3 linked regions of the Homo sapiens genome follow. The protein of the gene in region 1 interacts with the protein of each later gene in a biochemical or structural test. Each region holds a gene or a part of one and is shown on either strand. Other genes may lie near its edges. The genes, in order: TRIM14, DHX58 and RNF125.

Region 1 (7,109 bases):
GTGCCAGCACTGAAAAACCGCACCTCCGCATGGCTCCCACCTCAGGGATGCCGTATGGTCTCTCCAGGGCTCTGCTCCTGCAGGCATGGCCTGGGCTGACCATAGGTGCCAGGCCAACGTGGAGCCTGGGCATGCTGGTGTGGGTTTGTTCCTGGGTGCAGCACAGGAGGCTGGGATGCTGCCTGCATCTCCCAGAGCCACCCTCACCCCCGTGTGCCCACACAGGCATACACGGCCACCGAGCAGGAGATGCAGCAGCAGATGAGCCTCGGGGAGCTGTGCCATCCCGTGCCCCTCTCCTTTGAGCCCGTCAAGAGCTTCTTTAAGGGCCTCGTGGAAGCCGTGGAGAGTACATTACAGACGCCATTGGACATTCGCCTTAAGGAAAGTAAGTCGCCGAGTGACCAACTTTGTGTCCTTAACTCCCCTAGTGTCCTTTAGCCCAGAGACGAATGCAAAGATCATCTCCCTACATCCTGTCTCTCCCACACTGAGGCCCTTGGCTGGGCGGTCAGGGGCTCCTGGGCCTGGTGCCCAACCCACCCTCACCACTTCACCTCCAACCCTTCCTGAGACTGAGACCTGCCCTTCTCCAGTCACACTGCCCTGCTTCTGCCCCTCAGATTGCTCCTGGGAGCCTGCCACATCTCAGCCTTGCTCTGGGCTCCCAGCTGGAATGACCAACTCTTCCTCCTTCTCTTCCTCTGGCTGGGGCCAAGGCCTGGCACCCCTTCGAGGCAGACTGGCACAGCTGCGCCCACCTGGGAAGCCCTTTCCTGCCAGCCCAGCCCTGACTCACTCTCTCCTTTAGCCATCTCCCCTCTCCCTTCCCGCTCCAGGGCCTGCCCATGTCCTGCTAGAGGGTGCTCATGAAGTGGATACATGGACCCCCCTCCTTGCCCCTTGTAAGCACGTGAAGGGCAGAAACCAGCTTTAGGTCCAACTCTGAGGTCCCCCCAGGGCCTGGCACAAAACATGTACTCAAAAATATCTGTTCTTTGATTCATTTATGCATTCATTCATTCATTCACCTCTGCTATCATGATTCATTCAGAACATTTATCAAGCCCCTCTTATATGCCAGGCATAGCAGGGCACAAAACAAAGCTCCTTCTCCTCTTTTGGTGCTCACAGTCTTCGTAGGGGAAGACAGACCGTACACAAACATGTCAGGTGACAGGAACTGCTATACTGCTATAAAGAATAATAAAGGCCGGGCGTGGTGGCTCACGCCTGTAATCCCAGCACTTTGGGAGGCCGAGGTGGGTGGATGATGAGGTCAGGAGTTTGAGACCAGCCTGGCCAACATGGTGAAACCCCATCTCTACTACAAATACAAAAATTAGCCAGGCATGGTGGCATGCACCTGTAATCCCAGCTACTCGGGAAGCTGAGGCAGGAGAATTGCTTGAACCCGGGAGGTGGAGGTTGCAGTGAGTTGAGATCATGCCACTGTACTTCAACCTGGGTGACAGAGCAAGACTCTGTCTCAAAAATAACAATAATAATAATAATAATAAACCAGGGCAGGATGGAAGACAGGAAAGTGACAAGGAGGAGGAGCTGTTTTATATAAGCAGTTGGGATGGCCTCTGAGAAGGGGACACTCAAGGTGGCCCAAAGGAAGCATTCATTCTGCAGGTTCTGTGGGTCTGAAGGGCCAGAGAGCACAGTGGTCATAGGCACGGCCTCTGGAGCTAGGCCTCCTGGGTTCCTATCCGAGGTCTACCACTTGGAACCCTGCTGAACCCTGCCATCTTAGACACGGCTCCTCCCTTTTCCATGCCTCTGTTTCTGCATCTGTAAAGTGGAGACCATAATGCAGTCGCCTCTCCTGGGCTGCTGTGAGGATTAAATGAGCTCTTACACATATAGCGCTCAGGCATATTAAGCACCACGTATGTCTTGGCGATTATGATTGCTGCTGCTGTTACGTCTGGGGGAGGTATTCTAGACAGAGGGAAAAGCAAGGGTGGAGGTCCTGAGGCGCGATGGGAGTGAGCTGGCCATATCGAAGGAGCAGCAATGGGGACAACAGGAGTGGACGTAGGGTCACAGGGGAGAGAGGAAAGAGATCAGAATCCAAGGATTTGGACGTGGGCAACTCGCAGAAGGAAACTGTCATTTTCTGAAGTGAGAAAGAGTATTTAGGACTGGAGGGAATGAAGTGAACCTGTTAGATTTGAGAAGTTGGACTTCCCATGTGGTGGTATCGCCTCGGCAGTAGGACCTATGATTCTAGAGTTCTGGGGAGAGGGGAGAGGCTTTTGCCTTGATGAAAGAACAACTTCAGCCAAATTAAATTTAAAGGAGTTTAAATGAGCAATGAACGATTCATGAATCCGGCAGCCCTCTGAGCCACAGTGCACTCAGAGACTCCAGCACAGCCACGTGGTGGAAGAAGATTTAGGGACAGAAAAAGGAAAGCGACGTACAGAAAACAGAAGTGAGGTACAGAAGCAGCTGGATTGGTTACAGCTCGGCGTTCGCCTAATTTGAACACAATTTGAACAGTTGGCTACATCTGATTGGCCAAAACTTGGTGATTGGCACAAGTGCAGGCTACGGTCTGTTTACACCTCCACTTGTTATTGTTCATGACGTACAGAAAAATATGTAGGCCGAACTTAAAAGATGTAAGGAGGAGCTTTAGGCAAAACTTGATTTAAACAGCCTGCAGGTGGGCTTCCCACAGATCTCTACAGGCCCCTGTGATGAGTGCTGGGAGTGATGGGGGCGGAAGGCACTTCTGCGGAGGTGCTGAGTGAGCTGCGGCCCCAATAGCTGGGAAGGAGGCAACCTGGGCAAGGGGGGAAGGGTGTGGGGGGGCTGTCCAGGCAGAGGGCACAGCAAGTGCCAAGGGCCCTGGGTGCCCCTGCTGTGCCCGCTTGTTGGGATAGACTCCCCTCCTTCTTTCTTTCTGAGCACTCAGACCTTCCTGAGGACTCAGCTCTACTTTCTTGTTTTCCATCTTTACCCTGGAATCTGCACATCTTCCCTGAGTCGCCGCCCATCCTTGAGTGTTGGATCCAGTAGTTGTTCGCGCCTCAGCTCCTCCTCCTATTTAGGACTCTCCCACACCAGCCTTGTCATCCTGGGGTTTTCCTGTCCCTGTGAATTCACATAAATCCCTTAAATCTGCCTGGCTCTTGGGCGAGATTATGCGAATCTCCAGTTGTGTGGTATTTTTAGCACGTCTTATTTGTCTGCTTGCATAAGCTCCGGGCGCTCATTTCTCAACAATTCCTTACAGGCATAAACTGCCAGCTCTCAGACCCTTCCAGCACCAAGCCAGGTACCTTGTTGAAAACCAGCCCCTCACCAGAGCGATCGCTATTGCTGAAATGTAAGACCCCCGGGAGTGGGGATAGGGTGGAGACGGTGGAGATGGTGGGATGTTGGGTGGAGGAGGATCATGGAAATGGAGGTCCCTCTTTTTTTCTCATTAGAATTTATTTATTTATTTATTTTAAGAACTTGTTTTTTAAAAAATGTTTATTATTAAAGGCAATAAAACAATACATGTTCATTGTAGAAAAATTAGAAAATGAAAGAAAAAAGTTACTCATAATCCCTCTTCTGTGAATAACTGCTATTATTATTTGTCCTTTTAGCTTTTTTAGCACATCTAATATGCATATAATGATATATTTAATATATCTTTTTATGTTACAAACGTGGTGTCATACTATACATACTGTTTTGTCATCTGTTTTCATTTACTGATATATTATGAACATATATATATTTGGGATTTATACAGTGAGCCACTGTGCCCAGCTAATATTATCACTATGTGTGTGTGTGTGTGTGACCGAGTCTTGCTCTGGAGTGCAGTGGTGCAGTCATGGCTCACTGCAGCCTCGACCTCTTGGGCACAAATGATTTTCCCACCTCAGCCTCCCTCATAGCTGGGACTATCAGTGTGTGCCACCATGCCCAGCTAATTTTTTATTTTTATCATTGTTTTTAGAGGTTGCATGGCATTGCATTGAATGGATGTGTCATATTTAGCCAATCTCATAATGTTGGATGTTTACATTTTCATTTCTAAAACAATGCTGTAATAAACATCCATTCTTGTACACATTTGTTGAATTGAATTAATGAATGAGAGAATGAACACACCATACCTCATTTTCAGATTATTTTTTAGGAGTAATTTCTCAAGTGGAATTACTGGGTGTCAACCTAAAAAAGACTCAATCTAAAGAAGGCTCAGTATCCAGTTAGCAGAGTTTATTCAAGTGCAAAGTAACCATCAGGAGACAGAGGGAAACCAAAGAATGGTGATCACTGCCCCTGGTGTTGGGAGGGGGACAGTGAATATCAAAACAGAGGCACTGAATAAATTTACATTTTCCATACAAAGGCTAACATACTGATTTAAAGGCCGAGCACGGTGGCTCACACCTGTAATCCCAGCACTTTGGGAACCCAAGGCAGGTGGATCACTTGAGGTCAGCAGTTCGAGACCAGCCTGCACAACATGGTGAAACCCTGTCTCCACTAAAAATACAAAAATTAGCTGGGCATGGTGGCATGCACCAGTAGTCCTAGCTGCTCAGGAGACTGAGGCAGGAGAATCGCTTGAACCCGGGAGGCGAAGGTTGCAGTGAGCCGAGGTCGCACTACTGCACTCCAGCCTGGCAACAGAGCAAGACTCCGTCTTAAAAAAAAAAAAAAAAAAAAAAGTGCACAAATCAAAAATGTGCAGATCAATCAGCTCAATGATTTTTTAAAAAGGAAACATATTTTGTAACCACCTTCAGATCAAGAAATGGAAATTTCCACTCCCCAGAAGTCTTCCTCATGTGCCTTCTTGTTTACTATCCCCAAAGGGGATCCACTCTCCAGACTTCTAGGACTATAGGTTAGTTTTACCTGTTTTTGAACTTTCAGTAGATCATTCACACTATACCCTTCTGTGTTTTGCTTCTTTCACTCAATATGAGATTTATCCATTTTTGTATATTGACATACTGAGTGGCTGTTATAAATTCACTTAGTACTTCTAAGCTATCTACAGATTATTTGGGTTTTTGTGTAAATAAGCATGTCACCTATGAATAATAATCTTTCATTTCCCCGATCTTTATTCTTTCCTTTCACTTCTTTTTCGTGCCTTGAGTTACTGTCTACTACATTTAGAACATTGTTGAATAGAAGTGGTTATAATGAGCAGCATTTTCTCCCACCTTAGACATATATCCAACAGAAATGCATACATATGTGAATCAAAAGACCTGCACAAGAATGTTATGTGACCGAAACACAGGTTCAGTTGCTCAACGCTTTGCAGAGTTCAATTAACAAGAGCGAGGTCTGGTATAAAGAAAGTGGTTTTATTCTAAAGATTAGCTTAGGGGAAGAGGTACAGGCTCCTCCTGCCCTTAACGGTACCGCCTCACTTTTGGGGCAGAAAGCAGAGGCTTTTAAATGGGGACTTTGTATGAATGGCATGCAGGGAAGGAGCAAGCAGATGGGGGTCTATATGACTCATTTTGATGCGTTTTCTACCAAGTGGTTGAGCTGGTGCCATTGAGGGCAGAACTAGGTTGTAATGTGGCCGTTGTCTTGAGATGCTGTCCGGGTGGAAGAGTTCTGTTGAAGGCATACTTTATGTTGTAAATTGACTGTTGTCTCTTAAGGCAATCTCCTGGTGGGAGAAAGTTCTGGTTCTAGACCCTCTAAGTAGGTAGATAAGTTTGCCCTGTAGGGACTATCTGGTGAAGGGAAGGTAATGGTTATAATTACATTTCTAAAGAGCTAAGTAGAGGCAGGGCACAGTGGCTCACACCTGTAACCACAGCACTTTGGGAGGCTGAGGCAGGCGGATCACCGGAGGTCAGGAGATCAAGACCAGCCTGGCCAACATGATGAAACCCTGTCTCTACTGAAAATACAAAAATTAGCCAGGCGTGGTGGCAGGTGCCTGTAATCCTAGTTACTAGGGAGCCTTAGGTAGGAGAATCGCTTGAACCCAGGAGGCCGAGGTTGCAGTGAGTCGAGATCACACCACTGCACTCCAGCCCGGGCAACAAGAGTGAAACTCCATCTTAAAAAAAATAAAAATAAAGAGCTAAGTAGGAAGTGGGAGACAGGAGAAAAAGGGGGAAAATCTTAAAAATAATTCATTCTCTTTCTCTTAGAAAAATGCTCTTTTTCTTAGAAAACTCAGTCTCTGTTACACGTTTACAGTTATAGCAACATTAGTCACAATAGGCAACACGGAAACAATCCAAATGTCCATGGAAAACTGTTTGGCCTTGTTTATGAAAGCTGAATATCCACATACCCTGTGATCCAGACTTAAAAAACAACAACAACAACAACAAAAAAAACTTCATGTGTACATACATGGTGTAATGCAAAGAGAAATGTTAATGAGAGTTTAAATCACTACAAACTTTGGGGAGGATAGTTTTGCAATATGTATCAAAGACCTTAAAAAAATACCCATTGACCCAGCAATTCCTGTTTTAGGAGTATATTCTACAGAAGCAATCAGATACGTAAAAATGTAATTGTATTAGTGGTTTCAAAAGCTTTTTAAACGGAGGACTAAGTTATGCGTCCAAACATCAAAATTTTAGAATCTCCACTAAAATGCTCTTGTGAAAGGATATTATGATGTGTCAAAATGCCTCACAAGTAGATCAATCAATTTTAAAAAGCAGATTACCTAACGTCATGTATGGTGTGACACCAATATTAAGAAAAGCTATAAAAATTAGCCGGGCGTGGTGGTGGGCGCCTGTAGTCCCAGCTACTCGGGAGGCTGAGGCAGGAGAATGGCCTGAACCTGGGAGGCGGAGCTTGCAGTGAGCGGAGATCGCGCCACTGCACTCCAGCCTGGGCAACAGAGCGAGACTCCGTTTCAAAAAAAGAAAAAAAAGAAAAAGAAAAGCTATAAAGCAGCAAGGGGAGGGGAAAGATAGGAAGTACACACACCCTAATGTTAACAGTGATAGGATTAGTTTTAATTAAATTTGTATTAATTGGCAACAAATTTCACGGCACAAAATACAGACAGTATAAGGGATGTGCAGCAGAGTGATCTCTTCTTCCCCTTTCCCCAAGACCCCGCCCCAGGGGCAGTCGCGGTT
Region 2 (7,109 bases), on another chromosome or scaffold:
TAGAGGGATCTAAAAATATAAATCTGCCCTGACATTCTGTTCCTTAAAATCTATCCAAGATTCCTAAGAGGAACCTCCTGGATAAAGGCTACACTTTCACACCTGACCTTTCAAATCTTCCACGGGCTAGTCTGTCTTTTTCTAAATCTCATTATTCACAGTCCCTTCCACTCAGGTCAACTGGTGTCGCTTTTTTTTTTTTAAAGGCAGAGTCTCACTCTATTGCCCAGGCTGGAGTGCAGTGGTGCGATCTTGGCTTGCCTCCCGGGTTCAAGTGATTCTCATGCCTCAGCCACCCAAGTAGCTGGGATTACAAGCATGGGCCACCACGCCCAGCTAATTTTTGTATTTTTTTTTAGTAGAGAAGGGGTTTCAATATGTTGGCCAGACTGGTCTTGAACTCCTAACCTCAAGTGATCTACCCACCTCCGCCTCCCAAAGTGTTGGAATTACAGGCGTGAGCCACTGCACCTGGCCCTCCATGGTTACCTTCTCATTCGCTCACATTCAAACCAGACCCATTGAGACCTAGCTGAAATGCAACCTCCTCAATTGAGAAAATCTGTGTGAAGATCCTTGGCACAGTGGCCCGGAACACAGAGGGTAACATAATGAATGGATGGAGGATGGGGGAAGGTTACTCTCTAGGAGATAGTGGATGGAGGATGGCCCAGGGATGGCCAAGCTCTCTTGATATCTTCGGAATAGGTAGGACCAGAGGGTCAATGTGTGGTCTTTTGACACTTAGTATCCTGAATTCCAGTTCTTGCTCAACCAGATAGTGGCTGTGGGAACTTGGGCAAGTCACATAGCCTCTCTGAGCCTCTATTTCCTTGCCTGTAAAATGGAGACAGGGATAAAACCTGTCTAACCAGATTATTGTGAAAATGCAAAGTACTTGCTACAATGCTCTTTAGCTTCCCAAAGCTTCAAAGCACTGTCTGGATGGGAAGGATTCCCAGGCCCCCATCCCAGTAGCCCCTTCCACAGGTCTCACGAGAAGTTGGGGTTCACATTGACATGGTGGGTGCCCTCCACCTTCCGCAGGTCGCTGCCATGGCCCACAGCCACCATGCAGTTGATGCAGAGTAGCTGCACGTGCTCCACTGGGAACTGCTGCCGCTGGTTCTCCCGCTGGGCTGCCTGGGCCGCCCGCTTGGTCAAGGCTGCCTGCTGCAGATCCCGGATCTGGGGTGGGAGGAGACACCAGGCATGGCTGGGGCCTAAGAGAACGTTCCTTGGGGGACAAAAGGTTCCCAAAGAACTAAGATCATTTGTACCTGGAAGAGACTTTCCTTAACCCTCCCTGGAGCTTAAAAGAAGCTCTATTGCTGTGATGATGCAGTAACTCATGCCTGTAATCCCAGCATTTTGGGAGGCCAAGGCGGGTGGATCACGAGGTCAGGAGTTCGAGACCAGCCTGGGCAACATGGTGAAACCCCATCTCTACTGAAAATACAAAATTAGCCGGGCATGGTGGCGCATGCCTGTAATCCCAGCTACTCGGGAGGCTGAGGCAAGAGAATTGCTTGAGCCCAGGAGGTGGAGATTGTGCCATGCACTCCAGCCTGGGTGACAGAGTGAGACTCCGTCTCGGGGAAAAAAAAAAAAACAGCTATGGAGAAAAACAGTATGAGTAGTCGGGGGCAACAGTGGGAGGGGTAAGCTTTCCTGCTCAATCTTGAAGGACTTTAGGCAAAGCTGCTTCTGTGAATCTGTCATGGGGCATCATTAACAATTATGCTGGGACAACAGGGAGCACCCTGGACAAGGCAGGATGGTGGTGGCCCTGCCTCAGGGGAACTGATGATATAAGTCCTAGTTCTGGGCTTATCTTCTGCACGTGGACTTATCTTGTCCCCTCTGCCTGGTTCCAGAAAGGCTGTAATGCAGCTCTTCCAGATACATAAAGTATCTCATGGCAAAGATAAATAAAGAGCCTTGGACAAGGCCTGTTCCCAAGGCCTTCTGGAGTCCAGGTACTGCCTTCCCTGGCAGCCCCACCCCGGCCCTTATTTAAACCTTCCCTAGGTGGCCAAAGTTAGCCCCGAGATGTAGAGGGGACAGGGGGACGTATGTGTGCAGTCAGAAACCTGCCAGGGAGGGGCTCCCTCCTCCCCATCCCTCCCACAGGGCATGCAGGCTGCCTGCAGACCTTGGCCTGGTACTCGGCCTGGTCCATTTTCTGCACAGCAGCCACTGCCTGCTCCATCAGCGTCTCCAGCGCCTCGTTGATCAGCTCCCGCTTCAGCTCCCGGCTACCTTCAGTTGCTACAAACGCGTATACACTCTGATCGGCCCGGGCACGGCCCCTGGCCTGGGAAGAGAGACAAGGGGTGTCCTGAGTTGGGCTGGGGCCCCACACAGGATCCTATAAGGGCGGCTGAGTGGAGGAGGATGTGAGTACCTGGACCATGGAGATTTCATTGGTCAAGAGCCCATAACGCACCACCACATTGCAATGTGGGATGTCCAGCCCCTCCTCCGCCACACTCGTGGCCACCAGAAGGTTCAGGGTTCCATCTTGGAACTTCTGGATCACTTCTTGCTGGTCCCTCTGCAGGCGGAGGGCAGGGAGGAGAAAGAGGCTGGTACATGAGGAGGCTCAGACTGACTCCACCTGCCAGAGTAGCCTCTTCTGGTTCAGCCCTCACTCCCAATCTTGGTCCATCTCCCTAGAGTACTTGAATCCCATCTTTATCCCCAGGTACCCCCAGGATCTTGCCCATCTTCCCAGGTAACTGTCCAACCCCTATCTTCCCTAGGGACTCCTAAGGGTCCCTGCCCCTCTAGTCTAGGAAAAACTCTCAAGCCATAGTCTTCTGCAAGGGACCCCAGACCTGATCCTGTGCCCTGAGGAACTGCATCACCCACCTCTTTCCCTACGGACCCCCATGCCCAACCTTCTGCCCCCAAGGACCTCCAGACTGGGAGAGGCTCCAGCACTGGGGAGGTCAGTGTCCGCCCCTCTCCCCTAGCTCCTTGCCCCTCTGCCTGGGGATAGTCAACTTTCTCTTTCCCCAGGGTCTCCCTGCCCCCACCTCTCTGTGCTGAAGACCCTGTTCCCCGCACTTCTCTCCTATGGAATCCCTCCCAGCGCCAGCATCTTTCCCCGAAGCCCACACCTGGGTCATGTGGGTGCTCTGGCTGCTGTTCCCAGCCCCAATCAGTAGCTGGGCCCGGATGTCCACAGTCTGCAGGCCCTGCTGCTGCTGGAGCCAGAGCAGGAGGGAGTGTGCGCTTTGGCGGGTGCGGGTGAAGATGATACCCCGAGGGCTGTTAGAGCTACTGAACTGCCTTTGCAGGATCTTTTCCAGCATCTCCAGTTTTGGATTCTCTGGGCCATGAGTTGCCAAGTGGGCCAGCTCATTCTTGCGGTCTGTCAAAAACCCCAAAATTTAGCTGGGTGTAGTGGCACATGTCTGTAGTCCCAGATACTTGGGAGGCTGAGGGCAGAAGGATCGCTTAAGCCTAGGAGGTCAAGGCTGAAGAGAGCTATGATTGCACCACTGCACTCCAGGCTGTGTAACAGAGTGAGACTCTGTCTGGGAAAAAAAAAAAGAAAGCAAGAAAGCAAGAGAAAGAGAGAGAGAGAAAGAGAGAAGGAAAGAAAGGGAGGGAGGGAAAGAAAGAAAAAAAGGAAAAGAAAGAGAGAGAGAAAGAGAGAAGGAAAGAAGGGAAGGAGGGAAGGAAGGGAGGGAGGGAGGGAAAGAAAGAAAGAGAAAGAAGAAAAGCCCCAGAGGCAGAGGATTCAGATCTTGGAGTGGGGAGGGCACTGGCGGAGGAGGTTCTCACAGCAATAGGACTGTAGGCGTGCAGAAGGTGGGGGGTGGGGGGTGGGGGAAGGATGGAACTCCTGCTCAACTCCCCCACAGCAGCACCAAGAACATATTTAAGGATGCCCTGGCCGGGTGCATTGGCTCACGCCTGTAATCCCAGCACTTTGGGAGGGTGAGGTGAGCGGATCACCTGAGGTCAGGAGTTCGAGACCAGCCTGACAAATATGGTGAAACCCCGTCTCTACTAAAAATACAAAAAAATTAGCTGGGCGTGGTGATGCACACTTGTAGTCCCAGCTACTCGGGAGGCTGAGGCAGGAGAATCACTTGAACCCAGGAGGGGGAGGTTGTAGTGAGCTGGGATGGTGCCATTGCACTCCAGCCTGGGCGACAGAGCGAGACTCCCTCTCAAAAAAACAAAAACAAAAACAAAAAAGGATGCCTCCTACCGAGCCCACTCTCAAGGCCAGCCTCACACCGGGGTCATACAGTACAGAACCTCAGACCAGAACCCTCTTCTCCCCAGTGACCAGGATGACCCTTGAGCTTTTAACTCTGACCTCTGCTACCCAGATCTCTTGAGCCCCAGCCTGTGCTGCGATTTGCAACCTTAAATTTCACCCTCTGACTTTCAGCTTCACTCTCTCAGTCTAAAGGAACCACTCCTAGCTAATCCTTTTAAAAAATCTGGGCCGGGCACAGTGGCTCACACCTGTAATCCCAGCACTTTGGGAGGCAGAGGCAGGAGGATCACTTGAGCCCAGGAGTTAGAGATCAGCCTGGGCAACAAAGCAAGACTCCGCCTCTTCAAAAAAAATTTTTTTTAATTAGCTGGGAGTGGTGGTGCCCACCTGTACGCCTAGCTACTTGGGAAGCTGAAGGGTGAGAATTACTTGAGCCCATTAGGTCGAGGTTGCAGTGAGCTATGATTGCACAACTGTCCTCCAGCCTGGGTGACAGAGCAAGACCCCGACTATTAAAAAAAAAAAAAAAGTCAACAATGTTAATTAATTTTAACAACTAAGCAAAAACCTTCACAAATGAGGAAATAAATCAGTCCTACCCATGGCCTTGGATTTTGGTTAGAAAAATAGGATCTCCACCAGTATCCTCACGGGCACCTTCCCATCCGACCTTGGCGCCTGTGCCCTGGCCTCTGACCTCGCATCCAGGTCCCATCATCCCCGGCCCCGAAGCCCCCTCCCGCCCCTCACCATCGAACAGGGCCAGCAGCCGGCGCTCGGCACACAGGATCTGGGTTTTAGTGACGTGCTCCCTGTGATAGAAATCCTGCAGCGCAGCCAAGGCATCCACGGCGCGGACGGTGTCATGGATGAGCAGCGCGTCATTGTAGCGCCTCAGGTGAAGCGCATACACCCGTTGCTCCTGAAGCCCAGCCAAAGCCGCTGCGGGAAGAGGGCGCAGGGTCTGAGCAGCCCACAGCCCCGCCCCCTGCCCTGCCCCATAGGGCCGTCCCACTCGACTCCACCCCTGGGGTGGATAGGCCCCGCCCCAAAGGCCTCCGCCCCGGCAGGCCCCGCCCCTGACCACTCCCACATCCTCGCCTCCGCCAGAAGGGCTGCCCCTCTCACCAGCCTCACTCAGCTTCACCACCTGCTGCTCATACATTTGCGTCCCAAATTTCCGGCTCAACTCAGGCATCTCCAGGTGGTCATGGATTTGGTCCATGAGCTTCTTCAGCAAGTCCCCAAACGGATCCTGAGCAAGAGGAGAGTTGGAGGGGATTCCCATACACGTTGGAGGATGGGCACCCAGTGGGGGTGCTGACCCCGGCGTGTAGCACACCGCGACTGCCTCACCCATCTGTCTTAGCTGTGGTGTGAGCTCCAGAGGGAGGCCGGCTAGGGTGTGGGGGAGTCCTGCCCTGTCTCACCCGCGATGTGCTCTTACCCTTTGGCCTGGGCACGGTGATGCCTAGTGTAAGGCACATGGACGTGCTTTGGTCAAGGAATAGGCCGAGGCGGACATCCGGGCCAGAGTGACTCAGCGAGTTTGGGGGGCAGGCACGTACTCCACTTGCTATATAACCTGTTTGTGTAAGTTCATACTGGACTCTACTGTCAGTAGAAGGTAAAACTGCCCTGCTGACGCTGTTCACGGAGCTTGGTTCAGCTCGGCACGGCAGGGCACGCTTGCTCGCCCAGAGAGAGAATAATGCTACTAACCCCTGCAAGGGACAGCCGGTCGCCTTGAAGGTGGGCAGTGGGGAGCCAGGAACCCGCTTGTGCCCAGAGGGAAAGAGTTAAGCTGCTGACCCTGACAGAGCTGGCCTTGCCGGCCAGGGAGAGCAGCTGCAGGCGTGGGGGCAGCAGGAGCCACAGGGCCGGAGCAGACAGCCCAGATAAAGGTGGACAGTGTGAGAGAGCCGCTGCTGAATAAAACTACATTTCACCTGCCTATGGCCCCCCAAGGGTTCTTTCAGCTATCTGCTCACTCACTCCCTCCCTCCAGACCACAGCATGGGCTCAAACCTGACCCCAAGTGTAACATTTGGTATAGTTATGGACCTGACACCTAGTCCTTGTCCAGTCCAGTCATGGCAGACACGAGGCCGTGTCCACACTAGAGAGGGCTCAGTAGAGCCTCAGCACAAAGTATCCCTGCTCTCTGGTTTGTAGTGCACTCCCCAGCATGACAGTGATGTGACAGACACCAGTGGTGCCTTCTGAGTCAATCCAAAGAGCGGGCTGTGGGCATGGGCTGTATCTGCCCCATTTCACAGAAAGGAGAAATTGAGGCTTGGATACATAGCAAGTGACCTGAAGTCACAGAGCTAGTGAGGGCAGAGTCAGGGCCCAAGCCTAGGTGTCCTAACTTCACACCGGCTCCCGCTCTCGCCGTGTCCCTGCCCCCGCGTACCTGGCTGCGCCTGTGGCAGAGGTTGTACTGTTTGCAAGGCTGTTGGCTGTGCTCCTGCAGCTGGGGGCAGCAGTTCTGGGGTGACATGATGCACCACGTGTCCAAGTTGGCACAGAGCTGGGGGCAACAGAGGACTTTACTGGAAAGGGAGGGTCTGTGGGGACAATGGTCAAAGATTTGGGGCAGGATGGATCCCAGCTGAGGACAGGAGAATGTGGGCATTCGTCTACTCAAATATTGCTCGCCCTCTCTGTGCCCGTCTTGTTCTAGGCACTGGGGATACAAAGGAACTCAGATTGGAGTTGGAGAGGCAGATAATAAACCAGTAAAAGAATAATAGAACCGGCCAGGCATGGTGGCTCACACCTGTAATCCCAGCACTTTGGGAGGCCAAGGCGGGCGGGTCACCTGAGGTCAGGAGTTTGAGACAGCCTGGCCAACGTGGTGAAA
Region 3 (7,109 bases), on another chromosome or scaffold:
ACAAATGAAGAAACAGAGATTCAAAGAGATTAAGCAACTTAGTGGTAAAGAAAATTGGCTGGGCAGGGTGGCTCAACCTGTAATCCCAGCATTTTGGGAGGCTGAGGTGGGCAGATCACTTGAGGCCAGGAGTTTGAAACCAGTCTGGCCAACATAGCAAAACCCCATCTCTACTAAAAAATACAAAAATTAGCCGGGCGTGTTGGCACACACCTGTAGTCCCAGCTACTCAGGAGGTAGAGGTTACAGTGAGCTGAGATCACGCCACAGCACCCCAGCCGGAATAACAGAGCGAGACCCCATCTCAAAAAAAAAAAAAAAAGGAAACAAAATATTTTACCCCCAAAAATAATTATTTGACATACTTCGAGATGGCTATTGAGATGGCCTGCAGAAAGGAAAAACCCTGAAAAGCTGCATGTTGTGGGGGAGAGAAAAGTCTACATTGGTAGAGAAAGTCTACATTGGTGAAATAAATAGGCAGGCTTTCTGAGGTCTCCCCTGCCCAATCTAGGAGATTAACCAAGAGTCTGAAACGTTTGAAGGTCTAACAAAAAAACTTATCATGAACCACTACCTATTATTTTTTTTTTTTTTTTTTTTTTTTTTTTAAGACGGAGTCTCGCTCTGTTGCCCAGGCTGGAGTGCCGTGGTGCAATCTCGGCTCACTGCAAGCTCTGCCTCCCTAGTTCACACCATTCTCCTGCCTCAGCCTCCTGAGTAGCTGGGACTACAGGCACCCGCCACCATGCCCGGCTAATTTTTTGTATTTTTAGTAGAGACGGGGTTTCACCATGTTAGCCAGGATGGTCTCGATCTCCTGACCTCATGATCCGCCCGCCTCAGCCTCCCAAAGTGCTGGGATTACAGGTGTGAGCCACCGCGCCCGGCCGACTACTGCCCATTCTTTCTGAGAGCTTCTACCTGTGAAGTTTCATCTGTATAACAAGAACAGCTTTGCCCCTTATGTTTTTTTTTCCCTCTTATAACTTGTCTTGCCATCTTGCAATCCCCCATTCTTCTGTAACCTCAAGTATAAAAGCATCAAGCATCTGGCCCTTTCTTTCAGTTTTCATATTTTGTATGACTCCCACGCCCATATGCATATTAATAAATGTGTATGCTTTTATCCCATTAATCTGTTATCTGCCTGTTTTATAGACTCAAAGTATCGAATCTTTAGGAGAAAAATTTTTGGTGTTGTGATCAGGATGTAAGTCATTTTGTTCATTCTAGAGCCAATGAATGGGATCTTGGAACAACGGATGAAAAGCCAGCAAAGAAAGGTAAACTCATTTTTTTTTAACCAAGTCAGTTCTCCTCTCCGATCTCTGCCTATAGTGCCTGGTCAAATGTGGATGGTATGAGTCTCTGTGTTTTACCCTTTCTAAATTTGGATCAACAGAGAAAAACATATAAATTAGTTCTTGTATTGGTTTCAATCGCTTTTAAAATAAATGAATGGCTATATTTAAAAGAAAACTTTTTAGAGCTCACATCTTAAATAGCTACCTTATTGGTACCTATGAAAAGATACAAAAGGAATACAGGTTTAGAAACTCCCTCGGCAAGATTTTTGAAAAGTAGAAATCAGATTTAAAACAAAGTTAAAATCCTTTGTACTCAAATTGCATGCTTTAGATTCCTTATGAAATTTGTTAAATTAAAAAAAAAAAAAAAAGACTCCATCCTGTAGTCCAGTGGTAAGGATTCTGCACTTTCACCACTGCAGCCTGGATTCAATTCCCTTTCAGGGAACAAGACCCCAGGAGATGTAAATCCTTTAACTCAGGAAGGAAAAATAAAAGAAATACTTGGAAAAAATTAGTTTGAATTGTTTTGAATTTATATTTGTATGACTTCTTAACCTTTGGGGTACCCATTCATTCTGTAAGCCTCTCATCCAGCTGTTGTTTTCCTCTGTCTTAAACCCTAGAGAATATGGCCAGACAAAAATGTGGGTTGTACCCCATTTGCGGCTGGCAAAACCTTGCTTTCTTTAAGCTGTTGTAGGGAATGATCTGGATTTTGAAAGGGTTGCAACTTTTGCTCCCTCTTAGGAAACCTTGGTTGAAGCCATCAAGAGCTTCTTGGTTTCAGTCTCAAATGTTCTTATTTGTTTTGATTTTGAGTTATTTCCTTTGGTTAAAACGTTGGTTTATATTTAGAGTGTGATAGTAACTTTTTCCCCATTAATCTGCTTCCTCTACGGGGCCAGAGAGACATACCTCCTGCTACAGCTGGGAACCAAACAGGTGAGGAGAGGTGGGTACCCCCTAAAGAGGGGGTGCTGGGAGGGTCTGGGGAAAAAGAAGCATGAAATGCCACAGCTACCATTCTCTCTGCTCCCACAAAAGACTGGGTGCTCAGGCTGGGGACAGTGGTTCACACCTGTAATCCCAGCACTCTGGGAGGCCGAGGCAGGCAGATCACCTGAGGTCAGGAGTTTGAGAGCAACATGGTGAAACCTCTTCTCTACTAAAAATACAAAAATTAGGTGGGTGTGGTGGCACACCCTCGTAGTCCCAGCTACTCGGGATGCTGAGACAGGAGAATTGCTTGAACCCGGGAGGCAGAGGTTGCAGTGAGCCCAGATCGGGCCACTGCACTCTAGCCTGGACGACAGAGCAAGACTACATCTCAAAAAAAAAAAAAAAAAAAAAAAAGACCGGGTGCTCAGAGGACAAAATGTTTGCTGCTTGCATATTTAAAAGGATTTTTTAGGCTGAGGCACGAGAATCGCTTGAACCCAGGAGGCGGAGGTTGCAGTGAGCCAAGATTGCGCTGTTGCACTCCAGCGTGGGCAACAGAGCAAGACTCCATCTCAAAAAAAAAAAAAAAAGTTTTTTTTAAGAAAGATGGCTCTGTGGTCAAAAGCCAGCTTAATTAATAGCTGATATTCTCTGTTCTCTTTCAAATCCTGTTTCTCCCTTGGGAACTTCTTAGTCAACTAGACCTTTTTTTGTTCCTCAGACTCCTACTAACTAAAACTGTATTGGCCTTTTGAAAGCTTAAAATCTCCCCAAATTGGCTCCTCTAAGACTTGTTCTTCCATTTCCTTCCCCTTCTGCCCCTCCTCCTTTTTGCCATTTTTGATACCACATGAAGAGGCCTAGAGGGGACTTCTGTGAACCCTGAGACCCCTTGAGGAACACACACACACACGCATACACAAACACAAAAGCCACCAATCGCCCCTCTTTGGGGGTCCTCTGTCTTCTTTTTTTTTTTTTTTTTTTTTTTTGAGACAGAGTTTCACTCTTGTCACCCAGGCTAGAGTGCAGTGGCGCCATCTCGGCTATTGCAACCTCCACCTCCTGGGTTCAAGTGATTCTCCTGCCTCAGCCTCCTGAGTTGCTGGAATTACAGGTGCCTGCCACCACCCCTGGCTAATTTTCTTGTATTTTTAGAGAAACGGGGTTTCGCCATGTTGGGCAGGCTGGTCTCGAACTCCTGACCTCAGGTGATCCCCCCACCTCAGCCTCCCAAAATGCTGGGATTACAGGCGTGAGCCACCACGCCTGGCCATTGGGGGTCCTCTGTCTTCTCACTGAGCCACAGAAGCCATGGGCAGGGTCCATCCTCTCATGTCTAAAGTTCTGCTCTCCTGCATTAAACTTCCTAATCTCTCTGGCTTTTGGATACTGGTGTGTGCATGTGATATATGTTGTGTCTACATGTATATATATGTTTACACATGAGTTTGTATAGTCTGTAGTACCAAACTGACTTCTAAATAAATGAGTACTCACAAATTAACTATCCCAAATGTTTTTCGAAGTTCATATGACTTTAGTAATCTTTGGTAAATCAAGCTAGGTTTTTTTGTTTGTTTTTGTTTTTTTGAGAACGACTCTCAATCTGTCACCCAGGCTGGAGTGCAGTGGTGCGATCTCAGCTCACTGCAACCTCTGCCTCCTAGGTTCAAGCGATTCTCCCACCTCAGCCTCCATGTGCGCCACCATGCCCGGCTAATTTTTTAGTATTTTCAGTAGGGACAAGGTTTCGCCATGTTGACCAGGCTGGTTTCCAACTCCTGGGCTCAAGTGATCCGCCTGCCTCGGCCTCCCAAAGTGCTGGGATTATAGGTGTGAGCCACTGTGCCCAGCAATAAAGCTAGTTTTAAATTGTTAGTTGGCTGGGTGTGGTGGCTCATGCCTGTAATCCCAGCAGTTTGGGAGTGCTCATGCCTGTAATCCCAGCTCTTTGAGAGGCTAAGGCAGGAGGATCACTTGAGCCTAGGAATTCAAGATTGGCCTGGGCAACATAGGCAGACCCTGTCTCTATAAAAAAATAAAATTTTAGCAGGGTGTGGTGGGGCATGCCTGTTGTTCCAGCTACTCAGGAGGTTGAGGTAGGAGGATTGCTTGAGCCCAGGAATTTGAGGTTGCAGTAGGCTATGATCACATCACTGAGTAGTTTGTTCTTAGATCATATCTCTAAAAACAAACAAATAAAACTACTAGAAATAAGACAAACAATTCTTCAGGCAGAATATACCAAAAAAGCAAGATATGTTCTTGGAGAGAAAGGTTGTAAGAATGGCATGAGGCCGGGTGTGGTGGTGCACGCCTGTAATCCCAGCTACTCAGGAGGCTGAGGCAGGAGAACCTGGGAGGCAGAGGTTGCAATGAGCCAAGATCATGCCACTGCACGCCAGCCTGGGTGACACAGTGAGACTCCATCTTAAAAAAAAAAAGAAAAAAAAAAAAAAAAGAATGGCATGAAGTGTGATTTTTTTGTTAATGGAAAACGAATTGTGTCTAGTTTAGAAGTTATTTGAAGCTTGTTTCAAATTGAAAGAATAAAAAAAGATATAGATAAAACTAAATGAATATAGAAAGTTGGAAATAGAAGAAAAATCGTAAGAGGTTATAAAAGATATGTAAATCTTGTGTGGTCAAAGCTGACTGAAATTGGATGGACTTGTTTATTAGGTTTTATTTAAATTTATTATTGATATACTGATTCAAAAGTAAAATATGGTTTTCTCTTTTGAACAAGACTTTTGTGTAGTAGAGATGGGGTCTCACTATGTTGCCCAGGCTAGTCACAAACTGCTGGTCTCAAGCCATCCTCCTGCATCGGCCTTCCAAAGTCCTGGGATTACAGGCATGAGCCACTGCACCTGGCCAAGTATACTTTTGTGAGCAAAATAATTTACCTTTTTCTCTTTGGATTCACAAACTGGGTTTTGAGTATTCCTATTTCATGGCAATATAGTTACATGCATAAGTTCAGTAACAGTCTGAACAGGACATAATTGGAGACAGTGGTTATTTTAGCAAGGCTTTAACTGGAATGTCATACTTAGATACATGATCAAACTGTTTTGAGGGACTGAAATTGACATTAAAAAGCCAACAGACTTAGAAAAAGATTGGCCTGGTACCCTGTGTATATGGTTCCCTTACAAAATCCTGACCTTGCGGTATGTAAAGAATTGTCACTTTCTTGGCTGGGTGCAGTGGCTCACTCCTGTAATTCCAGCACTTTGGGAGGCCGAGGCAGGCAAATCACCTGAGCTCAGGGGTTCAAGACCAGCCTGGGCAAAATGGCGAAACCCTGCCTCTACAAAAAATACAAAAACTAGCCAGGTGTGGTGGTGCATGTCTGTAATCCCAGCTACTAGAGTGGCTGAGGCGGGACAGTCACTTGAACCTGGGAGGCAGAGGTTGCAGCGAGCTGAGATCACGCCACTGCCCTCCAGCCTAGGTGACAGAGTGAGACTCCATCTCAAAATAAACAAATAAGTGAAAAATAGCCAGGCATGGTGGCAGGCACTTATAGTCCCAGCTACGTGAGAGGCTGAGGCAGGAGGATTGCTGAGCCCAGGAGGTGGAGGCTGCAGTGAGCCATGATTGCACCACTACACTGCAGCCTGGGTGGCAGAGTGAGATCTCACCGCTAAAAATAAATAAATAAATAATAAAAATAAAGGAAATGTTTAATGTTTTAAAAATTAAGCTTTAAATGGGGGACTAAAGGAAACTGAAAATATTTCACCCCAAAATGTACTTCTTTGATATATTCCCACAGGAATAACCCTGAAAAGCTGCCTTTTGTGGAGGAGACTTGCATCTGTAGAGAAAATCTACACTGGTGAAATAAACAACCAGGCTTTCTTGGAGGCACCCCCTTATCTGTACCTAGGAAATTATTAACTGAAAGTCTGACACCTACGAAGGTCTGACAGAGCAACTTAACACAGGCTCATGCCTATTCTTTCTAGGAGCTGCTATCTATGAAGTTTCATCTGCATAACTAGACCATCTTTGCCCCAGCCCCTTCTTTCTTTCTCCCTCCCATAACCATGTTCCAAGCCCCTACTCTGCTGTAACCTCAAGATGGTATAAAAGCATCAAGCATCTGGCCCTTTCTCTCAGTTTTCATATTTTGTATGACTCCCATGCCCATATGCTCATTAATACATTTGTAAGCTTTTCCCCCCTTGTTAATCTATTAGCAGTTTGTTTCATAGACTCAAATGATCAAAACTTTAGGGGAAAAAAATCAAATTCAAATTTCCCTAAAGTGGTCACACATCTGGCTAGTGGCAGAGGTGAATTTCAAATCCAGCTCTCTGTAAGGGCCAGTTACTACTGCATCACAATACAACTTATAAAGTGCTCTTACATATTCATTCAAGGTACTGTTGTTATTATTAAACTTGTTTGACTTGAAATAGGTTTACAAACAAAAATCAGCATAAACCACCTAGTTCAACATGTCTGAAAATGTAGCTTCAATATGGGATAATAAAATACAGAAGGTTCATTTGCATTTATTCGTTTTCCAACTTAATTTCAATGGAAAAGAGTAATTCATTTAGAATGTACAAATGGTATTAACGCTCACAATCTCTACTGCAGAAAGGACTCTGGTTAACATTTATAAAGTGGAAGGGGACCAAGTAAGTTTGCCAAAAGGAGGAATATGGAAATTCTGCCCACAGCCAGAACAATGGACATAGATTTGTCAAAACAAAGAACAGTAAAGAGAGGAAAGGCAATTTGTTCAGCCCTTGTAATGCTATTTTATGACTATTTTTCCAGTTGCTAGTTTCCTATTCACTTTAACAAAGAAAAAGATTAAACAAAAAATTTAAC

The links.
Region 2: the proteins of TRIM14 (region 1) and DHX58 form a complex in vitro, tested with the Homo sapiens proteins (one study listed by BioGRID).
Region 3: of the proteins of TRIM14 (region 1) and RNF125, one has a biochemical effect on the other in vitro, tested with the Homo sapiens proteins (one study listed by BioGRID).

Annotation. Positions count from the first base shown.
Region 1 is NC_000009.12:98,088,146-98,095,254, reverse strand, and holds part of TRIM14 (tripartite motif-containing protein 14), read left to right. Parts: intron 1-225; coding exon 226-388; intron 389-3,253; coding exon 3,254-3,346; intron 3,347-7,109.
Region 2 is NC_000017.11:42,102,611-42,109,719, forward strand, and holds part of DHX58 (ATP-dependent RNA helicase DHX58), read right to left. Parts: intron 6,777-7,109; coding exon 6,660-6,776; intron 5,499-6,659; coding exon 5,372-5,498; intron 5,186-5,371; coding exon 4,994-5,185; intron 3,380-4,993; coding exon 3,126-3,379; intron 2,558-3,125; coding exon 2,408-2,557; intron 2,318-2,407; coding exon 2,156-2,317; intron 1,189-2,155; coding exon 998-1,188; intron 1-997.
Region 3 is NC_000018.10:32,021,800-32,028,908, reverse strand, and holds part of RNF125 (E3 ubiquitin-protein ligase RNF125), read right to left. Parts: intron 1-7,109. UniProt on the Homo sapiens protein: E3 ubiquitin-protein ligase that mediates ubiquitination and subsequent proteasomal degradation of target proteins, such as RIGI, MAVS/IPS1, IFIH1/MDA5, JAK1 and p53/TP53.